Homo sapiens: one gene and its partner. The protein of the gene in region 1 interacts with the protein of each later gene in a biochemical or structural test. Each region holds a gene or a part of one and is shown in the gene's direction. Other genes may lie near its edges.

What was found.
Region 2: the proteins of PDLIM1 (region 1) and STK35 form a complex in vitro, tested with the Homo sapiens proteins (one study listed by BioGRID).

What each region holds. Positions count from the first base shown.
Region 1 is NC_000010.11:95,257,728-95,269,258, reverse strand, and holds part of PDLIM1 (PDZ and LIM domain protein 1), read left to right. Parts: intron 1-396; coding exon 397-481; intron 482-5,195; coding exon 5,196-5,395; intron 5,396-11,531. UniProt on the Homo sapiens protein: Cytoskeletal protein that may act as an adapter that brings other proteins (like kinases) to the cytoskeleton. Involved in assembly, disassembly and directioning of stress fibers in fibroblasts.
Region 2 is NC_000020.11:2,096,014-2,107,375, forward strand, and holds the start of STK35 (serine/threonine-protein kinase 35), read left to right. Parts: upstream 1-5,813; 5' UTR 5,814-5,868; coding exon 5,869-6,162; intron 6,163-6,754; coding exon 6,755-7,352; intron 7,353-11,362.

The sequences.
Region 1 (11,531 bases):
GCTTCACAAATAAGTTGGTTATTTGGTCTGGACCAAACACACTGGGTTGAGATAGAGGAGAAGCCCATTCTATCCTGAGCAGAGATAGGGCAGTGTGAGTCATGCTTAGGAACATGGAGGAGACCACACTGCTGGTGTCAGCTACCCAGAGTGTGGTGAGGGAGGATGAAGTGCTTGGGAAGCCCCTTGGGGCTATGCTGGGGAGCCATCAGCCATGGATGTTATCAGATTGGGGTGTTTAAAAGATCAACCTGGTGGCAAATGGAAGGTAGAGCTGATGGGAGGGTGCTAGTTCAGTGCCTAGTCCAGGAAAGAGGGGGCATTTTTCCAGTTTGTCTTTGGTATATATTATTTATTTTACATGAGTGAAACAGCAGCTTTGTTAATCTGTTGCAGATCTGAACATAAAGTCTGGTCTCCTCTGGTGACGGAGGAAGGGAAGCGTCATCCATACAAGATGAATTTAGCCTCTGAACCCCAGGTAAGTTCTTGCTCATCGTTGCCGCTGCTCTCACCACCCAGCACTTTGCCGTTTCTGACACTGCTCAGCACATTCCTGTTTTTCCTGCCCTGGAGGCCTGGGGATAAGACCCTTCACTGTCTCTGCTGGTATCTGGCTCTTGTTCAGTTCTTCCCGTAAGGGAACTGCAGGAGGATAGGGCTGGAAAACCCCAGGGCAGTGACGCTGTGTCCTGGGCTGGAAGCAGGGGGTCGGAAGGCGATAAGGGAAGCCGGTGGAAGCCTTCCTGCGTGGGAAGGGTTGGCAGGATCACAGTGAAGTCAAGGAGCTATTCAGCTCGTTATGGATTTCAGCAACAAATGAATCATGACAGGGATGAAAATAAGTTTAGGTCTGGAGGCCTAGAGCCTAGAAGAAATCGGGGAATATGTAATAGGAAGCCCTGCTTCTCCCCACTGTATGCCCCTGTCTGGTTTCCATGAGCCATGGAGTGGAAATCTCTATTTTTGTTACAGTGAAACTTCTAGTGAGACTTTAAAATTACTAAAATAAAGCAGCAATTAATATAAAAAAAAGCAGTACATAGTGTACAATTTGTCACCCAGATAGAATTTCTCAGGACAGTAGACTGCCCTAAGATCCCATATTTGTGAATAAATCTCTCAGTAGTTGGATTATTGGATTGTAGGTGATTTTATTTCTTTCTGCCTTATGTGCCTCTTCTAAATAATCTACAAGGCATGGGTATTGTTTTTGAAATAAGGGACAAACTTAGAGATGTTTAGAACATCTTTTGTAAAATTCCTCACACCCAACATGCTACTTGTCTCAAAGTATGTGTCTGTTGGATACATTAATGAATTAGTAATGATAAACTAGGTATGTTGATAATGCCTTTTGAAAATTTTACACTGGTTTGTGATGGTTATGCATTTGACCCAAGTTGAAGATTTGAAATTTAACTTATTTTTCTAAATTTGGGATACTATTTAGTTTTTATGGTGAATTAAGATGTAATTAAAATACAATATATAGCTAGCTATCTTTTATACATAAAACAGAAACTTGTATGAAGTTGAACTCACTTGGTATATTAGTGTGTGTTAATTGGGTGGTTGGATATAAGTCATATTTTCTCAAATAGAATCCATTAAAATTTCAAAAACGAAGTCACATAAAATTTTTGCCATTAAGATAGTAAAAATAATTATTAAAAATCCCAAGAGTCATTTTAAGGATCATTTTGCATCATTTCAAAACTGATGTGAACATATTCTTCTATACAACTCCTCTCAGGAAAGTTCGTAAAATGGCACTTGGTCTATACACTGGCAGTTGTGCAAACTAATTTAAAACATGCCACAGTTAGTTTCAGTTTCCTTGGGAGTTCTCAGCTACTTCATTAAATTTACCATAAATGTTAAATTTTAATTGTTAAATTTTAATTTTTACATATTTTATAACACACAAGGAATGATTTCGTTTTAACTTGGTCTATCTGAAATCCTCATTTTCATGTAAATAAGGTAATTATGTAAATTTCAGTTATAGTTTTCATTTGTAGTATATTTGAATTTTCATTTTAAATCTGTAGTTACCTGTATTAATCTTTTGAAGGTAGTTCTCTTCAGATTACAAAAATTCTCAAATACTTTAAACCCTTGTATTTTTCTTGTGATTCTAGTAATGCTTTATTACTGTAAGAAAAACTTCTCACCCATCATTTTTCCAGTCTTTTACTTCCAGCCATTCTAAAGTAGAGGATAAATGAGTAAGAGCAGAGTTCATCTATAATAAAAAGATCTGTTGGTTCATGTAATGCCAACCAACACCCCAGCTTATCTGAGGTCAGCATAGTTACACACCTAGTTTGTACTTCCTCATTATTGAGTTTCCTTGGAGACTGATAAATACAAAGCCCAAACAATTACATCATCCCTTCTAAAAGGCAAGCCCTGAATCTGCCTGCTTTCTGGAAAGACCAGTCAGTATTCAGATGAGGGTAGAGATATTCCTTTTATGTACAAACCAGATGCATTCTTGAAAGATTCTTTAGAAAGTGAAATCATCCGAATTTTCAACCTGAATTTTCCATTGACTTCCATTCTAATTGGAAATGTGTTTCGGTGGAGGGAGAAGGGAACAGACCCTGGTTGAATATGTGCCACGAGCCAGGCACTGTACTTGACACTCTAGTAACTCACACAAATCCTTGTAAAGAAGGCTTTATCTTCTTCATTTTAAAGATGAAAAATGGGCTTAGAGGGGTATTCCTTGCCAAACAGGAAATTGCAGGGAAAAATTGAGCCAAGGCGGAAAAATAAAGACCCTTCCTTGGGGCTCTGCATCCTCTGCTGCTCCTAGGAATTGCCATGGTGATGGAGAGAAGAAGAAAGAATGACCATCCTGGCTGCGGCACATGTAGGCAAGGGTACCAGGCCACCCATCTGTAAATCTCTGTCTTCATGACCATAGCCTTTAATTACTATATATTATTTATTTGGGTAGCTGTGCCATAAAATTTACTTAACTACTCTTTGATAACTGCTGAAGTTTTGTGTTGTTTTTTATTTTTTGTTATTTATTTTTATTTTTTATTTGTGAGATGGAGTCTTGCTCTGTCACCCAGGCTGGAGTGCAATGGTGCAGTCTTGGCTCACTGCAACCTCTGCCTCCTGAGTTCAAGTGATTTTCTTGCCTCAGCCTCTGAGTAGCTGGGATTACAGGCAGGTGCCACCACGCCTAGCTAATTTTTATATTTTAGTAGAAACGAGGTTTCACCATGTTGGCCAGGCTGGTCTTGAATTCCTGAACTCAGGTGATCCTCTTGCGTTGGCTTTCCAAAGTGCTGCGATTACAGGAATGAGCCACCGTGCCTGGCCTGTTTTGTTTTTTTAGGGATGAGAGTCTAGCTCTGTCACCCAGGCTGATGTGCAGTGGCACGATATGGCACACTGCATCCTCCATCTCATGGGCTTACATGATCCTCCTGCCTCAGCCCTCTCAAGTAGCTGGGACTACAGGCTACTTGACTGTCTAACTTTTTTTTACGGATGGGGTCTTACTATGTTGCCCAGGCTGGTTTCGAACTCCTAGGCTCAAGCAATCCTCCTGATTTGGACTCCCAAAGTGTTGGGATTACAGGCGTGAGCCACTGCACCCAGCCAAAAGAGAAATCTTTTTTTTTTTTTTTTTTTTTTTTTTTGACAGAGTTCCACTCTCGTTGCCCAGGCTGGGGTGCAATGGTACAATCTCGGCTCACCGCAACCTCTGCCTCCTGGGTTCAAGAGATTCTCCTGCCTCAGCCTCCCGAGTAGCTGGGATTACAGGCATGCGCCACCATGTCTGGCTAATTTTTGTATTTTTAGTAGAGATGAGGTTTCTCCATGTTGGTCAGGCTGGTCTTGAACTCCGGACCTCAGGTGATCCGCCCGCCTCGGCCTCCCAAAGTGCTGGGATTACAGGCGTGAGCCACCACGCTCGGCCCAAAAGAGAAGTCTTAAACATAAAAATATTTTCAGGTTGTTTTCTTTTATTTTAAATTAGGTACTCAATAAAGCTTTTAGTTTTCATGATTTTTTTTTTTTAAGAAAGCATAAAAGACTTGAATATTTAACAAAAAAGGAGAGAAAAAAGGAAGTGCAACAGATGACAGGAACTCTTTTGGAGGCAGCTGTTCTGGGCCTGGGTGTTTTAAGAAAGAGACTAGAGTTCAGGAAGATTTTTCTGGAAAACACAGACACTAAGACACATTTTGAGTTCAGCTGGCTGCACAGAGCATGCATCACCTAGAAGCCATGGGTTGTCCAGACACCCATATAGAAAGGACCTTGCTGATTGGGCTATCAGAAAAGCTGTGATGCTGGCAGGAGGGAAAGAAAAAGTAGAAAAGCTGTAGTTTTAGAAAACAGGAATGTTAATTTCCAAAGTGGCTTTGCGGGTTTGTAAAGGAGCTCTGAGATGTTGTAGCTGTAGTAATTATTCACCTGACTCTTAACAAGTCTAGGGTGGGGGTGGAGGGAACTTTCTCAAATTACAGAAAGAGGGGAATGAGAACACAAGGAACTCAAAAGTCCTTTTCTGCAGCTCTGCTGGGTACCGCCCCTGTAACAGGTATCCCCGACCTTCTATCTGATTAGCCTTGTCTTTCTCCCAGAAGAAACAATAGATCCTTAATTTCCTTTACCCTTGCTCTGCAGGAGACTGAGACCATCTCTGCCTAGTCAGCAGCTGCTTCCCCTGTGACACCACACCCTCTTACCTTGCTTGTCTAACTTGCTCACTTATGGAGAATTTATCTCCACCTTTTATCATCTCCTGCTTTTGCACTGACCAAAGTGACTGCATATTTCTCTTCACCTAGTGCTTTAATCTCTTTGGTATGTGCCCTGAAAGCGTGTTTTAGCTCTGACTTGAATCTTACAGCCCAAAGCATCAAGGGCTGTCCTGCCCGAGGGTGCCTTAGAGGGCAGGCTTTGCTGGGCCTCAAGGAAGAATCAGAAGGTAGAGATGATTCAGGGGGTGTGAACTCGCACAGGTGCCCATTGTGGGAAACTTCCCCAGTCATTGCCCGTGTGTCTCAGTGGGTGTGTCAGTGTCCCTCAGCTAAAGTTTGGGTTGAACTAGGGCCATCTTAGCAGCTGGAACACCTCTCCCTGGCGCTCAGCCTGCACTGCCCATCAAGGGGTTTGCATTGGATGCCCCCCTTGATTTCTCCTCTGATCCCTGCCTGCAGGAGGTCCTGCACATAGGAAGCGCCCACAACCGAAGTGCCATGCCCTTTACCGCCTCGCCTGCCTCCAGCACTACTGCCAGGGTCATCACAAACCAGTACAACAACCCAGCTGGCCTCTACTCTTCTGAAAATATCTCCAACTTCAACAATGCCCTGGAGTCAAAGACTGCTGCCAGCGGGGTGGAGGCGAACAGCAGACCGTAAGTAGCCCAGGAGTCCTCCTCTGAGCCGCTCCTGGGAGGGGCTTTTCACATCAGGACCAGGGCTGCCCAGGCAGGTGCAAGAGCCACTACTCCAGGGAGAAAAATGACTACATTAGCAGAACACTTCTGTGTTCATTTTCTTCATCTACACAAAGGGGACAATACCTCCTGCTTTATAGGGTGTCTGTAAAAGTAAGAATTAATACGTAAAATGCCCAGCATTGTGTTAAGCACAAACAAATCACTTAATCCTCCAGAACTGTTTTTATTTGTGTTTTGATTTCTGTGGTCATCATCTTCTAATTGAACATAGTCCTTCCTTGACAGGCCTGCTGCTTCCCGAGAAATTCTTCAGTATTATTAGTCGGGGAGTGTTTGAGGGAATCTAGAGTAGCCTGTGCTTATGTCCACCATCTGAACTAAGCAAGGGAGAAATACTTCATGCTGCATAGTTTTGGTGAAGCAGTGTTTGCTTTTTCCCTAGAGTGGACCAGAGGTCATGAAAGAAGAGAGGTCCCTGAGGATATAAATGCTTGTCCTAGGAATAGGTTCTGATCTGGGGACAGAGGCAGGCTTAACTGGGGGAGAGGTAGGGCTGCAGGTGGAAAGGGGAGAGGTGTCTGAGGAAGTGCCTTGCTGGGGACTGAGGAGGCATGTCCTCTTCTGTCACAGATCATCTGGCTGCAGCTGCCTTTGAGTCTTTTTTTTTTTTTTTTGAGACAAGCTTTCGCTCTGTCACCCAGGCTGGAGTACAGTGGTTTGATCACAGCTCACTGCAGCCTCGACCTCCTGGGTTCAAGTGATCCTCCCACCTCAGCCTCCTGAGTAGCTGGTACTACAGGTGTGTGCCACCACACTTGGCTAAGTTTTACTTTTTTTTGTAGAGATTGGGGTCTCACTGTGTTGCCCAGGCTGGTCTCGAACTCCTGGGCCCAAGTGATCCTCCCACCTCAGACTCCCAAATTTCCGGGATTACAGGCATGAGCCACCAAGCCCTTTGAGTCTTTATTGGAGTCTCCTGGATCTTGCCAGCAGAGGGGCCCAGTGTCTGCTCCATCTCAGGCTCTTTGAGGATGAATCCAGAAACACTGGGAATCCCAGCAAAGGAACTGGGTTTGAGGATGGGTTAAAGATGGGGCCAATTCTCTGTAGGTGTAAAGTGGGTGGACTAGGTTAGGAATTGCCCACTCAAATACCCAAAAGTGGCAGGCAGGATGAGGAACTGAGGCAGAGCTCTGAGTAAACAAGGGTGCTGGGTGGGGGTGGGGGTGGCAGCTGGAGCGTGCATTCCTGGTCCGGAGGGGACGCTGCTCCTTGGCTCCAGCCACGTGCCTCATGCAGGTCTCATTTCTGCTAATTATTTCCATTAAAACAGAAGTTGGAAAGCCTCTTTTTTTCGGAAATCTCCTGATTTTTAATTATTGGTGACATTTAAATTTTGTTGGAAAACACTGTGTGGTCCAAACTTGCCTTAGCTCTGAGAACCTTTCTCACTTGGAATCATCAATTTTTGTATTGCCTCTGAAGCCCGCTTTGCCATTCAGTTTCTCCCCAATTCACCTTTAACAAGAACCTGCTCAACTCTTAGGGTAATTAAATTGCAAACCAATGGCTTCAAATGCAGGTTGAGAGAGGTTAAGATACTAGAGGTTCCAAACTACTTAAATGTTTGGAAAGGGCTGTTGTAGCAACACCTCTCAAGGGCTCCTTGGGCATTCCTTGCATATAGTCACCCCTCCCCTCCCCAGAGAGAGACAGATGTCATTGGACACCCATGACATGTGCATCCCTGTTCCCTGTGCCTGACACTGAGAGGACACTAAGATTTCTTTCTTTCTTTTTTTTTTTTTTTGAGACGGAGTTTCACTCTTGTTGCCTAGGCTAGAGTGCAATGGAGTGATCTCTGCTCACCACAACCTCCGCCTCCCGGGTTCAAGCGATTCTTCTGCATCAGCCTCCCGAGTAGCTGGGATTACAGGCATGCGCCACCACGCCCGGATAATTTTGTGTTTTTAGTATAGATGGGGTTTCTCCATGTTGATCAGGCTGGTCTCAAACTCCCGACCTCAGGTGATCTGCCTGCCTCGGCCTCCCAAAGTGCTGGGCTTACAGACGTGAGCCACTGCGCCCAGCTGACACTAAGATTTCTTTTAACATTTCTTTGAGTCTGGTAGGGCAGACTTTTTTCTGTGTGACTTTGGCTTTAGAAGATGTTAAAGGTTACTGGCCATTTATCATAGTAACCAAGGCAGTCTCCACCAATGTTTCTTCTTCCCTCAAATTCTGGTTCTTGCAAGGGCTTACTGGCTTGAGATGATGATTCTCTTCCAGGCGACTGTGGGGACATTTGAGATACCTGAGAAACGGTGTCATACTGGTCCCCCTAGGCTTTCCACAGACACACCCTGAGAGGAAGCTTCCAAGCAGCTCAGGAGTGGTGGAAACACTGGGGGCCTGTGATCCCTGTTTTTAGCTGCTTTGGTGCTGGGGAGGCTGAGAACATGACCCTCTTTTACTGTCCCAGAGTGGAATATTCCATGATCTGGACTTAGTAACCCAGGAAATGACACATCCTTAATTGAAAGAGCTGCTATGCATTGGGAGAAATATGTGCCTGGGAAATATTTTTAGTATGGCCTTGGCTATTTTTCCTTCATTAATGTCTCTCTTCTCTCATGTTCCCTGCCTGCTCCCTCCTCTGAGTCTGAAACTACCAGGTGGCTGTTTAAGCCTTTCCTCTAGCCCCTGGCCCAGACTCTTTGGCTGCAGTAGTTGCCGAGTATCAAAATTTGTCTCTTTGCAGATTTTCTCAGCAGAGAGGGTCCTGTTTCTGTTCCACCCCGCACTCTTTGAGGCTGAACCCAGAAACAGTGGGAAAACCAACAGCCTAAGGCAGAGGAGCTGCCTAACTGGCCATGCTGCTTGTATGGGGGGATCTCAGCTTGCTGGTGTATTTCTAGTGCATTCCCACAAAGAAAGATTCTCCTGTGAGCCCAGCAGTCACCTGGTAACTTTGCTTGCTCAGTCAGCACAAGTCCCAAGTGCTCGCTCCCTCCCACTGTTTAGTCTGTGAAATTCGCTGAAGTTCCAGAATTGGCTCACTACATACTTTGCATCTGAGGTCATCACCCATTCTCTGGGGCTTGCCCTGGATTTCTTTGTCCTATGCACTTGAAAGTATTGTGGTGTGTCTGTTGCTATCTGTCTTGTAGGTCTTTACAGAGCTGTGTCCCAGTCAGATAAGAACAGAGATAGCCTTGCCAACTGGTAAGGCAGGTGAGGGGGTTTCTCTGCTGCCCTTCCTCCCAGTGCACACAGTGGAGGGGGAGGTCCTCAGTGGCCTTTTTCCTCTAGGTCAGTTCAGCATAATCATTTATTGAGTGCCTACTGTGTACCAGGTGGGCGAAGAAAATGTCAGTTCAGCAGAAAGCTAGCACCTTTCCTCTGTTCTCTTTTAATTGAGTTGAGGGGACCCTGGTCAAAATCAGAAAATTCAGAGCCCAGATTTCATTGTTTATATGATACTGCCTGATACTTCCTAAAGGCTTGGTAGATAGAGGGGCCTGAGCCTTGAATTCCAGCTCTGCCTCTTACTAGCTGTGTGACCTTGGGAAAACCATGTAACATCTCTGAAACTCAGTCTCCTGAGATCTAAGGTGGAAATAATACTAACTTCTTTACCACCAGGTTGTTGAGACAATGCAATGGGATGTGCACAGAGCACTCAGCACAGTGCCTGGCCCCTGGTAGGTGCTCACTAAATGCTAATTATTGCTAACTTTAGTTTCCATGAGGAACTCCATCCCCATCACTTCTGAGAACTGGGGGCTACAGAAGTGTGGAAGCACATAGACAAATGTAATGGAGAAGACTTTGCTGTGGCTTATGGTACACTTCTTTCTTGCCCATTAAATTCAGCCAGCCCACACAGCTAATCAGCTTACTGATGGGGTGGTGGTGTTCTCTTCAAGGAATGATTGGAGAGCTCCTGTAACCAACATACTAGGCCCTAGATAATAGCTCTTCCAAATTGTGTTGTAAGGTGTTGCCCCCAAACATTCATGAGGGAGATTTCTAAGCAGCTGCCCTGGAAATAAAGGGATGCATCATTTTCTATTCAAATATTATCACAAGGATGATGTTAACCCTGGCTTCTTCAGAGCTGAATCAGAAGTACACCTCTATCATGAAGGCTGCTTGCCCCTCTAGCTAAACCTGCCTGCCACCCACAGAAAACTGGCTCTGCTGTGCGGGCATTCCTCTCTCTTCTCCTGGTGCCCACAATTACCCCTCTGGTTTCTTATTGCAGGACCAATATGTGTGCCTTTGAAGACCAAAACTTAGGAAGCACACAGGCCAGGCTTCCCTTCTGAAAATGATTACATAGGGTTTCCCAGAATGGCGTTTTTGGGTGAACATTGGGGTAATCAGGCTGGGACATCTCATTTCTTGGGATATGAGATAGGAAAGATTTTTCTGGGTCCGCCTACCTCCTTTCCCCCACCTACATAAAAAACAAGTATTCCTCTACATTATTTCCAGCTAGCACTTAACTTCCACCATTTGGGGAAAATATTTCTTAAAATTAATTAAAATTTTTATTTTGAGATAATTGTAGATTCACTTGCAGTTATAGGAAATAATACAGAGATCCCCTATACCCTTTACCAATTTCCCTCAATGGTAACATCTTGAAAACACAATAGTAACAAAATTAGGATATTGACATCAATACACTCAAGATACTGAACATTTCCATCTCTGCAAGGGTTTCTCATGTCGCTCTTTTATAGCCACACTCGCTTCCCTCCTTTTCCCTCATCCTCCTTAACCCCTGGCAACTTACTTATCTACTCTTTATATTTTTATTATTTCAAAAATGTTATATTAATGGAATCATACAGTATGTAACCTGGGATTAGCTTTTCTACTCAGTATATTGTCTGGAGATTTATTTAGGTTTTTGTATCGATAGGTTTATGTATCAATAGTTTGTTCCTTTTTTTTCTGTTTTATGGGTTTGTCTTTTTTTATTGTGTTAAAAAACATGAAATTTATGATCTTAAACGTTTTTAAGTGTATTGTAATGTTTACTATGTGTACATTGTTGTGCAACACATCTCTAGAACTTTTTTATCCTGAAAAACTGAAATTCTGTACCCATTGAAAAACAACCTCACCTTAAAGTCCCCATCTCTCAAGCCCCTAGCAACCACTATAATACTTTCTAAGTTTGATTACTTTAGATATCTCATATAATTGGAGTCATGCATTTGTCTTTTTTCAATTACCATAATGTCCTCAAGGTTTTCCCATGTTGTAATATATGACAGAATTTCCTTCTTCTTTTCTTTTTTTTGAGACAGAGTCTCGCTCTGTCCCCCAGGCTGGAGTGCAGTGGCGCGATCTTGGCTTACTACAAACTCTGCCCCTCCAGGTTTAAGCAATTCTCTGCCTCAGCCTCCCGAGTAGCTGGGATTACAGGCGTGTGCCACCATGCCCGGCTAATTTTTTTGGTATTTTTTTAGTAGAGATGGGGCCTTCTTTTTTTAAGGCTGAATAATATCCCATTTTTTTTTCACATTTTCTTTATTCATGTTGATATGGTTTGTCTGTGTCCCCGCCGAGATCCCATCTTGAATTCCACGTGTTGTGGGAGGGACGAAGTGTGAGGTAATTGAATCATGGGGTCAAATCTTTCCCATGTTGTTCTCATGATAGTGATTAAGTCTCACAGGATCTGATGGTTTTAAAAAGAGGAGCTCCCTTCACCAGCTCTCTCTCTCTTTGCCTGCTCCATCCATGTAAGATGTGACTTGCTCCTCCTTCCACCATGATTGTGAGGCCACCCCAGCCATGTGGAACTGTAAGTCCAATTAAACCTCTTTCTCTGTAAATTGCCCAGTCTTGGCTATATCTTTATCTGCGGCATGAAAACACACGAATACACATGTTTTTATGGACGTTTAGGTTGCTTGCACCTCCTGGCTATTGTGAGTAATGCTGTAATGAACATGGGTGAGCAAATATCTCTTTGAGATCCTTCTTCATTTCTTTTGTATATAATCAAAAGTGGGATTGCTGGATCATATGGTAAATTTTTAATTTTTTGAGTAATCTCCATACTGTTTTC
Region 2 (11,362 bases), on another chromosome or scaffold:
TGGTCCCTAATGGGTCTACTGTGATGTGGGACTGCATAACTGCACTGTCATATTGTCTGTGTCAGCCCCTCAAGGCAGACACTGAGTTTTCTCCTGCTCATCCCCATACATCAGCTCCCAAACTGCCTTGCACATAGAGGAGTAAGGGTTCAAAAAATGTTAAATGAATGACTTTTCTTACAGTAAAAGTGTAGCCATTGCTTTATTCAGCCAGTGTCAGCGACTCCTTGAGTGTAGAGAGCACAACCAATGATGTGACATTCCATGCAGCTCTCTGTGCTCAGCAGAGAAAGGACTTCCTTCCGCATCCCTGGCCTGCTAAAAGGGCTGAAAACCTCACTGCTTGGTCGGTTACGGTGGCTCACGCCTGAAATCTCAGCACTTTGGGAGGTCAAGGTGGATGGATCACTTGAGGTCAGGAGTTCGAGGCCAGCCTGGCCAATATGATGAAACCCCATCTCTACTAAAACACACACACACACACAAAATTAGCCAGGTGTGGTGGCAGGTGTCAGTAATCCCAGCTACTCGGGAGGCTGAGGAGGAGAATCATTTGAATCCAGGAGGTAGAGGTTGCAGGGAGCCGAGATCATGCCACTGCACCCCAGCCTGGACAACAGAGTGAGACTCCATTTAAAAAAACAAACAAAAAACCTCACTGCTGCTCTTCTCTTCTACATTTCTTCTATCACTAAATATTGAGCTCAGTCAGATGTTTGGTACTGTCTGAGGTTCCAGGGATACTGAGGCAGGCATGTTTGTCAACAAGAAAGATGTAGAAGAGGGCTCGCTGTAACGTTTACACTGCTTAGCCTGGGGAGGGGCTGAGTGCGATCAAGAGATGTGGAGTGTCTGGGGCCTCAGTTTGAAACCCAGCTGTGCCAGCTTCACATTCGGTTTCTTCATCTGTAAAATGGGGCTAATGAAAGTCACTACCTCATGGAATTGTCGTAATTCTTTGTTAATCCCTGTGCCTGGCAGACAGAAAACTTTAGTAAATGTTGGCTATTAGTCCTAACAGTAAAGTATAGGTTACTTCCATAAGTTAAGCAAGACAAAAACAAAAACTAAAAATTTGGTCAAGGCATCAAATGATTTATCAAGCAGTCCAGCCCTCTTAACAGCATATAAAAGGATTCACACTCCTTGTGGTCCTCCCAGAACTTCATATTCAATCTCTCTCAAAATTCAGGTGGGGGATACAGCTGGAGGCCATTATCCTAAGCAAATTAACTCAGGAACAGAAAACCAAAAACCAAATACCGCATGTTCTCACTTATATGTGGGAGTAAACAATGGGTGCTCATGGACATAAAGACAGGAGTAGACACTGTGTATTACTAGGGTGGGGAGGGAAGGGCAAGGGTGGAAAAGCTACTGGTTACTATGCTCATTACCTGGACGATGGGCTCAACTGTATCCCAAACCTTAGCATCACACAATATATGCATGTAACAAACCTGCACAGGTACCCCAAAATCTAAAAAAACAAGCTGGAATTATAAAAAGTAAATAGGCCGGGTGCAGTGGCTCATGCCTGTAATCCCAGCACTCTGGGAGGCCAAGGTGGGAGGATGGCTGAGCCAGGAGTTCGAGACCAGCCTGGGCAACATGGTAAAATCCTAGTGGCATGTGCCCACAGTCCCGGCTACTCAGGAGGCTGAGGTGGGAGGATCACTTGAGCCCAGGAGGTCAAGGCTGCAGTGTGCCATGATCATGCCACTGCACTCCAAGCTTGGGCAACAGAGCAAGACCCTCTCTCAAATAGATGGATAAATAGGTAAGATGCCTAAAAACAAAATAAAAACATGTATATGTGTATTAGAAAACAAAACAAAACAAAATCAGATAGGAAAACTAGCCAGGAGGAAAGACACTGCTGGCTGTGCTAAACCTACGAAGCCAGTGATACAGGAATGGGGCCAGGGCCACACAATGCAGCCTTCTGTCCTTAGAAACTTCTAAGTAAAGACACAAGTGTTCGCAGCTACAGGGTTTTGGCTTTTTTTTTTTTTTTTTTATGTTTTAATTCAACTTTGTCGTGGTACAATTTACACACAATAAAATTCCATCACCCAGAAAATTCCCCTGTGGCCCTCAGCAATCAATTCCCACCTGAAAAACAACCACTGATACGATTTCTGCCACTCTAGACTATTGTTGGTTGACTTTATATTAATGGAATTATAGTATGTGTTCTTTTCCAATTTTTTTATAGCTTTATTAAGTTGTAAAACTGATTTACATAAATACACCTAATATAAAGGGTACAATTTGAAGTGTTTTAATATATTCCTATCTTGAAACTATTACTACAGTCTAGATAACCCATCACCCCAAAAAGTTTTATGTCCTTTTGTTTTCTATCCACCCTTCCTACCCCAACTACTGATCTGCTTTCTGTCACTACAAATTAGTTTGTATTGTTAAGAATTGTATATAGAATCATCTAGCAGGTACTCTCTTGTGCCTGGCCTCTTTCACTCAGCATAATTATTTTGATTCATACATGCTGTTGTATCAATACTTTATTCCTCCCCCCATCAACACACCCTCAGCAACATTTCATTGTATGGGAATACCACAATTTGTTTATCCATTCATTTATTGCTGAACACTGCAGCATTTTCCAGTTTGGAATTCTTATGGGAAAAGCCACTGTGAATTCCTATACAAGTTGCTTTATTAACAGAAGTTTTCATTTACCTGAGACCCATGGAATTGCTGGGCCACAGGGTAGACATATATTTAACTTTATAAGAAACTGCCAAACTGGTTTTTTTTTTTTTTCCCAAAGTGGTTGTACCATTTTAAAATCTTACCACATGGCTGGTTTCACAAGCTTGTATCCATCTCATGGCTTTTGTACTTGTTCTTCTTTCTTCTTGGAATGACTTCCCATTCGGTTTCAGAGCTGGGTTCTTGACATTCAGGTTTCAATTCAAATGTCAAATGCCAAAGAGGCTATTATGGACTGAATTGTGTCCCTCCTCACTCCAAATTCATGTTGAAGTTATAATTCCCAGTACCTTAGAATGTGCCTATATTTGAAGATAAGGTCTTTAAAGAGGTAATTAAGATAAAATAAGGCTGTCGGAATGAAGGACAAAAACCATACTATCATTTCAATTGATGCTGAAAAAGCATTTGATAAAATTCAACATGGTTTCATGATAAAAACCCTAAAAAAAACTGGGAATAGAAGGAAAATACCCCCACATAATAAAAGCCATATATGACAAACCCACAGCTAGTACCATACTGAATGGGGAAAAACTGAAAGCCTTTAAGATCTGGAATACAACAAGGATGCCCACTTTCACCACTGTTATTCAACACAGTACTAGAAGTACTAGAAGTACTAGCTAGAGCAATCAGGCAAGAGAAAGAAATAAAGGGCATCCAAATAGGAAAGGAAAAAGTTAAATTATCCTTGTTTGCATATTATATCTTATATTTGGAAAAACCTAAAGACTCCACCAAAAAACTGTTAGAACTGATAAACAAATTCCGTACAGTTGCAGGATACAAAATCAACATACAAAAATCAGTAGCATTTCTATATGTTAACAGTGAACAATCTGAAAAAGAAATTTAAAAAGTAATCCCATTTACAATAGCCATAAATAAAAATACCTAGGAATTAATTTAAAGAAATGAAAGATCTCTATAATGAAAACTATAAAACACTGATTAAAGAAATTGAAGAGGACACACAAAAAATGGAAAGATATTTCATGTTCATGGATAGGAAGAATCAACATTGGTTAAAATGTCCATACTACCCAAAGCAATCTAAAGAGTCAATGCAATCCCTATCAAAATACCAATGACATTCTTCACAGAAATAGAAAAAAGGTTATGGTTAAAAAGACCTTCTGATCACCATTTTGCAACTGTAATAATTGTTTCAAGCAAGAATCACCATGAATTCTGAAACCAGTGGGTAAGAGTCTAAAGAAGAGGATATTTAAATAGTCTCAAAATATCTTCCCACAGAATACTTAATAGTTACAGAAGGAAAAATCGTAACTTTATGGTAGAGTGTAACTACTCCTACACCACCTCAACCAAATGATGGAAGTTAACACCACGAATACTGGGACAAACACAATGCCATGTGCCTCCTGATGAAAGGCCCTGAGGAGGCAACTTTTTTCAGCAGTAGTCCTGCCAAAAAATGCATACCCTCTCAGAATAGCAAGGGATGGGTTGGTGGGGGGTGGGGGAGGAGAGAAAAATGGATACTCTGAAACTAATAAGAAAACACAGATGAATAAAAATTTAGGGACATTCTACAATATAACTCGCCAGTATTCTTCAAAAATGTCAAGGTCATGAAAGACAAAGAAAGGCTGGATAACTAACTGCCCTTCCAGATTAAAAGAAACTAAAGAGGCATGACAACTCAGTGCAACGTCTGATCCTGAATTGGATCCTGGGGAATAGCTATAAAGGACATTATTGGGACCATTAGCAAAATTTAAATATGGATGGAGTGTATTAAATAAAACAATTGTATCATTGTTAAAATTCCTGATTTTTGACCACTGTACTGAGATTATGCCAGATAATGTCTTTTTTTTAAGGAAACACACACATATATTTAGGATAAAGGAGTTTGATGTTGGAAACTCTAAAATGATGTAGTAAAAAAGAATATATACATTATATATGTGTGTGTGTGAATATCTATATACCGTATACTGATTTCCTTTCTTTTGGGGTATATACCATATAGATATCCACACACAATATGTATTTGTGTGTATATATACACATACACGAGAGGATATGGATATGCAGCAAAATATAACAATTTGTTATTCTAGTGGAAAAGTATATGATCTTTACGATTCTTGAAATTTATGTGTAAATTTGAAATTTAATCACAAAAAAGTTAAGAGGTTTTCAGCGACCAAATACATTATAAGAAATGGCCTGTATCCAGTGAGCACTCTTTAGCTCATTCTTTTTCTCCATCACACTTACCACTGGCAAAAATTATCCTGTGCATTTATTTAATAATACTTAACATTGTGTGCAAGGCTGTCCTAAGTGCTTTACCTGTATAACCTCTGTGGATCTTCTTACAGGTAAGGAACAAATACACAAGAAGGTTGACTAACTTGCCCAAGGCCACCCATGTGGTTTGTCTCCTGCAGTGGCACAGAACCTCAACCAAGGCAGAAACTGCCTTGTCTATTGCTCTTTCCCCAGCGACTTGGAATGGTGCCTAGCACATTACGGGTGTTCAATAAACATCTGTAGATTCAGTTAACAAACACTGGGCACCCACTAGGCCTACACTGGAATACAAAATACAGAACAAAATATTCAAAAATCTGTGCCTAAATGGGAGCTTTGGGTACTAACAGCCCCACACCCAATTAGCCTCCATCTAGGTATTTCATTTGGGTCTATCATTCCTGGGAATTAAAGCCCATTCTATCCATTTTGCAGAGGATCATTAGATAAACGGATGCTCAGGGTGGGTCAATGATTTGCACAAGATCACTGGGCTGGTAGAAGGGAAGGTCGGGATTCCAACCCAGTCCCTGAGGTTCCCAGGACAGAGCTATGAATCAAACGACCAAGACAATCACCCAGTCAGTATTTATTAGGCGCCTACTGCGGACGGTTGGTCTTCACGCAGATCAGGCGAGAAGGGATAGTGATGCGCGGGCCGCTGCGGAGACCCGGAGCCCGCCGCGGATCACGGGAATTTCGCGCCTATTTTTTGTTGGCTGGGTGTTCTCGCCAGTGATTGGGTCCCGGCAAGGCGTGCCGGTGCGCTCGGCTGCGGCTGCTCCGTCGACCTTTGCAGGACCGGGCGGTGCAGGGCTCACTCGGCTGGCGTCCCGGGGGATGGGCCACCAGGAGTCTCCGCTGGCCCGGGCGCCGGCGGGAGGTGCAGCTTATGTAAAGAGGTTATGTAAAGGGCTCAGCTGGCGCGAACACGTGGAAAGCCACGGGAGCCTAGGAGCCCAGGCTTCCCCAGCGAGCGCCGCGGCAGCAGAAGGATCCGCTACACGCCGGGCTCGGGCCGCCACCTCCCGCGCTGCTCGGTCCCGGAGGCAGCCCGGGCCCGGAGCGGACCATCCCCAGGCAGGGGCTCCAGGGGGGAAACGGGCCGCCCGGAAGTGGAGGTGCGCGGGCCAGGTAAGGGCGCCGTTGGAGGACTGAAGGCCAGCGCCGAGGCTGGAGTTACTGCCACTGCCTCCGCGCTTGGGAAGGGAAATCGGGTCCTCGGCCAGTCGCACTCCGAGAAGCCGAACTTTTCAGCCAATCCCTTCTACCCGTCGCCCTCGGGGACTTGGGTCGGTCCGCTGGGCTCCGCTAGGGCTTAATTCAATGGACTGTTTACACCCGGGCGAACACAAGGCGGGGCGCGGGGAGGAGCGTCACAGAGGGGGCCAAGCAAAGAAAAATATTTCCGCCGGCCAAATCGCGTCTCTAAGCGGTTTTCAGAAGGCGTGAAGCTTGCTGGCTCTTCTTTTTCCTATCGCTACATGACAAGCTAACAGAGAGAGCGGAGAGTTTGTGCTTTTCTTTCCGGTTCCCCCTCTGAGCTGCTGCCCAGTGGTTCGGTCTTTCCCGCTTTCCCCTCCCCTCCCCCGTTCAATCAGCGGCGGTGGCTTCCGTCTTAAAGGGGCCGCGGCGGCCGGGGGAGGAGGAGGTGGGACGCCCCGCGGCCTACGCTCCTGGCCTCCCCGCCTTGGCCTGGCCGTTTAACCGATTCTTTCGCCCGCAGGTCACAATCCAAGGTCCGGCTCCTCCGCGTCCCAGGGCCGGACGGAGGGATGAGGCAGGGGGGGCCCGGGCAGCGCCGTTGCTGCTCCCCCCGCCGCCCGCAGCCATGGAAACGGGGAAGGACGGCGCCCGCAGAGGTACACAAAGCCCGGAGCGGAAAAGGCGAAGCCCAGTGCCGCGGGCGCCCAGCACGAAGCTGAGGCCGGCGGCGGCGGCCCGGGCCATGGATCCGGTGGCGGCCGAGGCCCCGGGCGAGGCCTTCCTGGCGCGGCGACGGCCTGAGGGCGGTGGCGGGTCCGCGCGGCCGCGTTACAGCCTGTTGGCGGAGATCGGGCGCGGCAGCTACGGCGTGGTTTATGAGGCAGTGGCCGGGCGCAGCGGGGCCCGGGTGGCGGTCAAGAAGATCCGCTGCGACGCCCCCGAGAACGTGGAGCTGGCGCTGGCTGAATTCTGGGCCCTCACCAGCCTCAAGCGGCGCCACCAGAACGTCGTGCAGTTTGAGGAGTGCGTCCTGCAGCGCAATGGGTTAGCCCAGCGCATGAGTCACGGCAACAAGAGCTCGCAGCTTTACCTGCGCCTGGTGGAGACCTCGCTGAAAGGTAGGAGCACCGCGGGCCTTTCCACCCACGCAGGGCCTGGACCCCCTGCTCTCCGGACGGCTTGGCCCACACTGTTCCTGGCCTTCCTAGGCCTCAGACCTGGTCCCTGTCACCCTGTGCCCTGACACACCCTCCTTTCCTGGGCCCAGGCATTCGGCCCTCTCTTCTCAGGTCCTAAGATCAGTCCCTGGGCCTAAAGTTGGCTGGTGTTTCCATAACAAGAGCTCGTTTAAGTGCTAACCATTAACTTAATAAGTGCTCAAGAATTGCGAGCTATGGTTATTAAACGTCTTCTATTTTTAAGATCGGTTGGGGGAGTGGAGGAGGGGTCGGGTTCAGTTAGTAGCAGAACTGCGGAGCCTCCTCACCCCCGAGGGCCTCTCTCTTTCCCTCCCAAAACAAACAAAAAGAAAAAACTTGACTGGACCCACCCACACCCTCTCCCTGTCTGGTTCCAAGTTTCCTGACACCCTCCAGCTCCAACCCCCAAACTCCTGTGGCTTCCTCGTCTGCCTTTTCCTCTGAGGCCCCCGGCCCTTCATCCCAGGCAGCCGAGCAAACTGACTGTCTTCTGGCTTGGTCCTCTGAGGGGTGCAGGCTGACAACCCTCACAGGTGGCCTGAGAGCTGTCACATAACAAAGCATCCGGCATCTTTTCCCTCCGTTTTACATTCTTAATCTTTTTCTTAACCTCAGAGGCTGGCTGGGAAGTGGTTTTACTTAAAAGGAAAATGGGGTACATTGAGGCAAGAGGTCTTGCAGTCCTGGAGGAACTAATTATCTTAGTTTCCGGGTTTTAACTGCAGTTAGGGAATGTATTCATCCTAACTACTCAGTACTCACAAGCCTTTTTCATACTACCAGTAGCTAAGTGTCTGCTTGGAGAGGAGAGAGGCGGTAGAAAGTTTGAGGAGACTTTCCGAGGCAGGAGGATCCAGGGGAAGAAAGTTTACTAATCCGAGTCCCAGCTGTGGTCTCAGTGCTGAAGTAATTTTTAGGTAATAACTTCAAAAGTAAATTCTATCCTTTTTCTATAAATAAACTAAGGCTTAGAAGTGAACAAATAACTTGATCAGGGTTAATCCGCTTGAAAGGGAAGTTAGACTGTACTCCTGGTTTCCTTACATTTCTCAGAGCTTAAGTGACGGGGATCCCAGATCTGTCTTGATTCGAGGCCTGGATCCTTTCGAAGGCGTAATGCTGTTCTCTGCACCCTGAGGATGAACTTTTTTAAGAGTGGGTAGGATTTGGGGTGAGTTTGGAGGGGGTGGTTTCCCAAAATCTTGTTACTTTTGCACAACTTAAAGATCCCCCAAGTCTTTCCCAAGAGAACGCTTTGTCCCATTGCAAGTCAGTTGTTTGACAGTGGAGTTGGAAACATGAATCAGTATCACCTAGAGTCCTTTAATTAGATGTCTAACTTTATAAAGTCCATCCGTGCCCCATCCATTCTGAGAAGCCTACCCTCTCCCCAGGGTGAGTGTTTTTGTTTTGAAAAGACTTCCAGCAGGGCACAATGGCTCACGACTGTAATCCCAGCACTTTGGGAGGCTGAGGTGGGAGGATGGCTTGAGCCCAGGAGTTTGGGAACAGCCTGGGCAACAAAGTGAGACCCTGGTCTCCACAAAAAATAGAAAAAAAAATAGCCGGACCTGATGGCACAGGCTTATAGTCCCAGCTACTTGAGAGGCAGAGGCAGGAGGATCAGTTGAGCCTGGGAGGTTGAGGCTACAGTGAGCCATTATCATGCAATGGCACTATAACCTGGGCGACTGAGCAAGACCCTGTCTCAAAAAAAAAAAAAAAAGACTCCCTAGGGGATTCGTTTATCTTACCTATATTCTAGGAGCGCATCACTTACTTTGAAGTCTTTCTATTCTCAGACTTCTCTTAGTCTTCTCCTTTACTGCCAATGAATGGTCTGGACTTCCTACTACAGGATTGCCTTGGGATGTAGGAATTTGCCTTGCCGAATGTTTATTCCTTGTGTCCTCAGTTCATTGACGCCAGTCTCGAACCTTCAACCTCAGCTTGAAGCTCTTGCTTACTCTCTCAACATATAAATACTATGTGGACTTTCCTCACCTGAAGAATTTGTCAAAATTCCAAAGTGACCCCATGGCAGCATAGCATAGTGGTTAGTACCATGGACTTTGGGGTTAGACCCTCTGGCTCATCCCAGGACTGACTGCACAAAACATGGAGCAAATTGTTTGAACCCTGTGAGGAGCATTCCTTTATTGTAAGATAGTGGGTATGTACCTATGACATTAGGTACATAGGGTCACTGTGCAAACTGTTAATGTCAGCAAGTGCTCCACATAGGGAGGAATTCACTGCCTTATATAAGTTCACACCATGTTCTGTACTCTTCTACCCTCACCCCCTTCAAGATTCACATTGTTCTTGCTCAAGTTTCCCAAACTTGTTTCATCATAGAACACACCTTGTTTTCTGTGTTGTCAGGCACACCAAGTTGACAGAAACACTGGTGTTTTCATCCTCCCTTTGTGAACTAAAACTGGGACCTAGAAAAATGAAATCTTTTGCTTTAGGCCGTACACTGGATTGGATTGGTCCCTTTCAGTTGTTTGGAGTCTTTAAAATATTTGAACCTCTACGGTGTTCAGGGCTCAGAGACAGAGCAGTGAAGAAAATATGTGTTGTTTCTGCTTATGAAAATGACATTCAAGCTGACTTGCAATGTGTGGATTTTTCAAGTAGTAAATAGGTAATCATTTTTGCTTCTTAAAATAGAGAACAGATACCAAAATTACTCCAGGTTAAACTTTGCTTATTCTGGATTCCAAAATTTAGGGGTCTTGATCTGTCCTGGGGCCTTGGGTTTACAGCATGCAAATACCACCCAGTAATGTTAAAGCTGGAAGGAATCGTAGAGATAACCTGGTTCAGCTCTCTCATTAAATAGAAAAGTCCTTTACAGTCACCCTTGGCCCTGCCTCCTAAAACTCAGAATGATTTTGAACAGGCCAAAAAGTGTGAATCTGCCTTGAAGTCTCAACTAAACCTAATGCTGAGTCCCTACTGTGGTATTTGAAGGGAAAGAAAAAAAGCAAAGCAAAACACACCACCCCTTGCCCCAATGGAACTTACATTTGAAAAGTTTGAGAACTGGAAGAAGATTTAAATGCTATTCAAGATCACTGGAGGAAATGACCAGTCAACTCATAAGCAAGGGCTTTGCACAAGAATTAAGAGGAAAGAGAATCAGGAGTTAGGGAGAAGGTGGGCTTGAAAGTAGGGTGCCTAGGACTGTGGATAGGCGAAGAGACAAAGGGAGTCCGTTTCACTATTTGGCCAGTAAAATAATCCAGTATCGAAAAGAGAAATGTCTTGAAATGCTGTTCTTGGTCTTACCCCATTTTGTTTGATAGCCTTAAATGCATTGTCTCCTTCCATTCTGTGCACAGACCAAACACGTCCTACCCAGAGGCATTAAGACAGCAGAAGCTTCGGAGGAATAGAAAGAGGTCTTAGATGTGTGACCTGGCTGCCTGTTTCACAAGGAAGGAAACTGAAGCCCAGAAAAGGGACAAAACTTTTATCCACAATGAGTTAGTGATAGCACTCAAACCAGCCTCCCAGGCTTTTTAAAACCACATTTACAATCCTGTAAATTATTTGGTTGAAGGGTTGGTGCCTATGTTTTTAACTTTGAAATACTTCTCACATAAAGGTTGGGGGGGTGAAGGCATCAACAGTTTGCTTTTATCCCCTTGTTTTCCATTGCGAGAATGCCTGTCCTGAATGTGCCTAAAACAAAGTTCAAGATTACTGCCACTTAGACAGCAGGCAAGCCTGAGTCACTGTCAGTCAGAAATTCTGTTGCTTTGTCTAAGGCACACACTGATTCTTCTGACAAATAGCAAGTGAGGACACACTCACAGACACTAATCCAGGACAAACTCTCAAGACTCATATAACAGAATAGTTAGAAGTTTGGGAGAGCCGGGAGCCTAGCTTACACTCAACTTGATAAGACACTAATT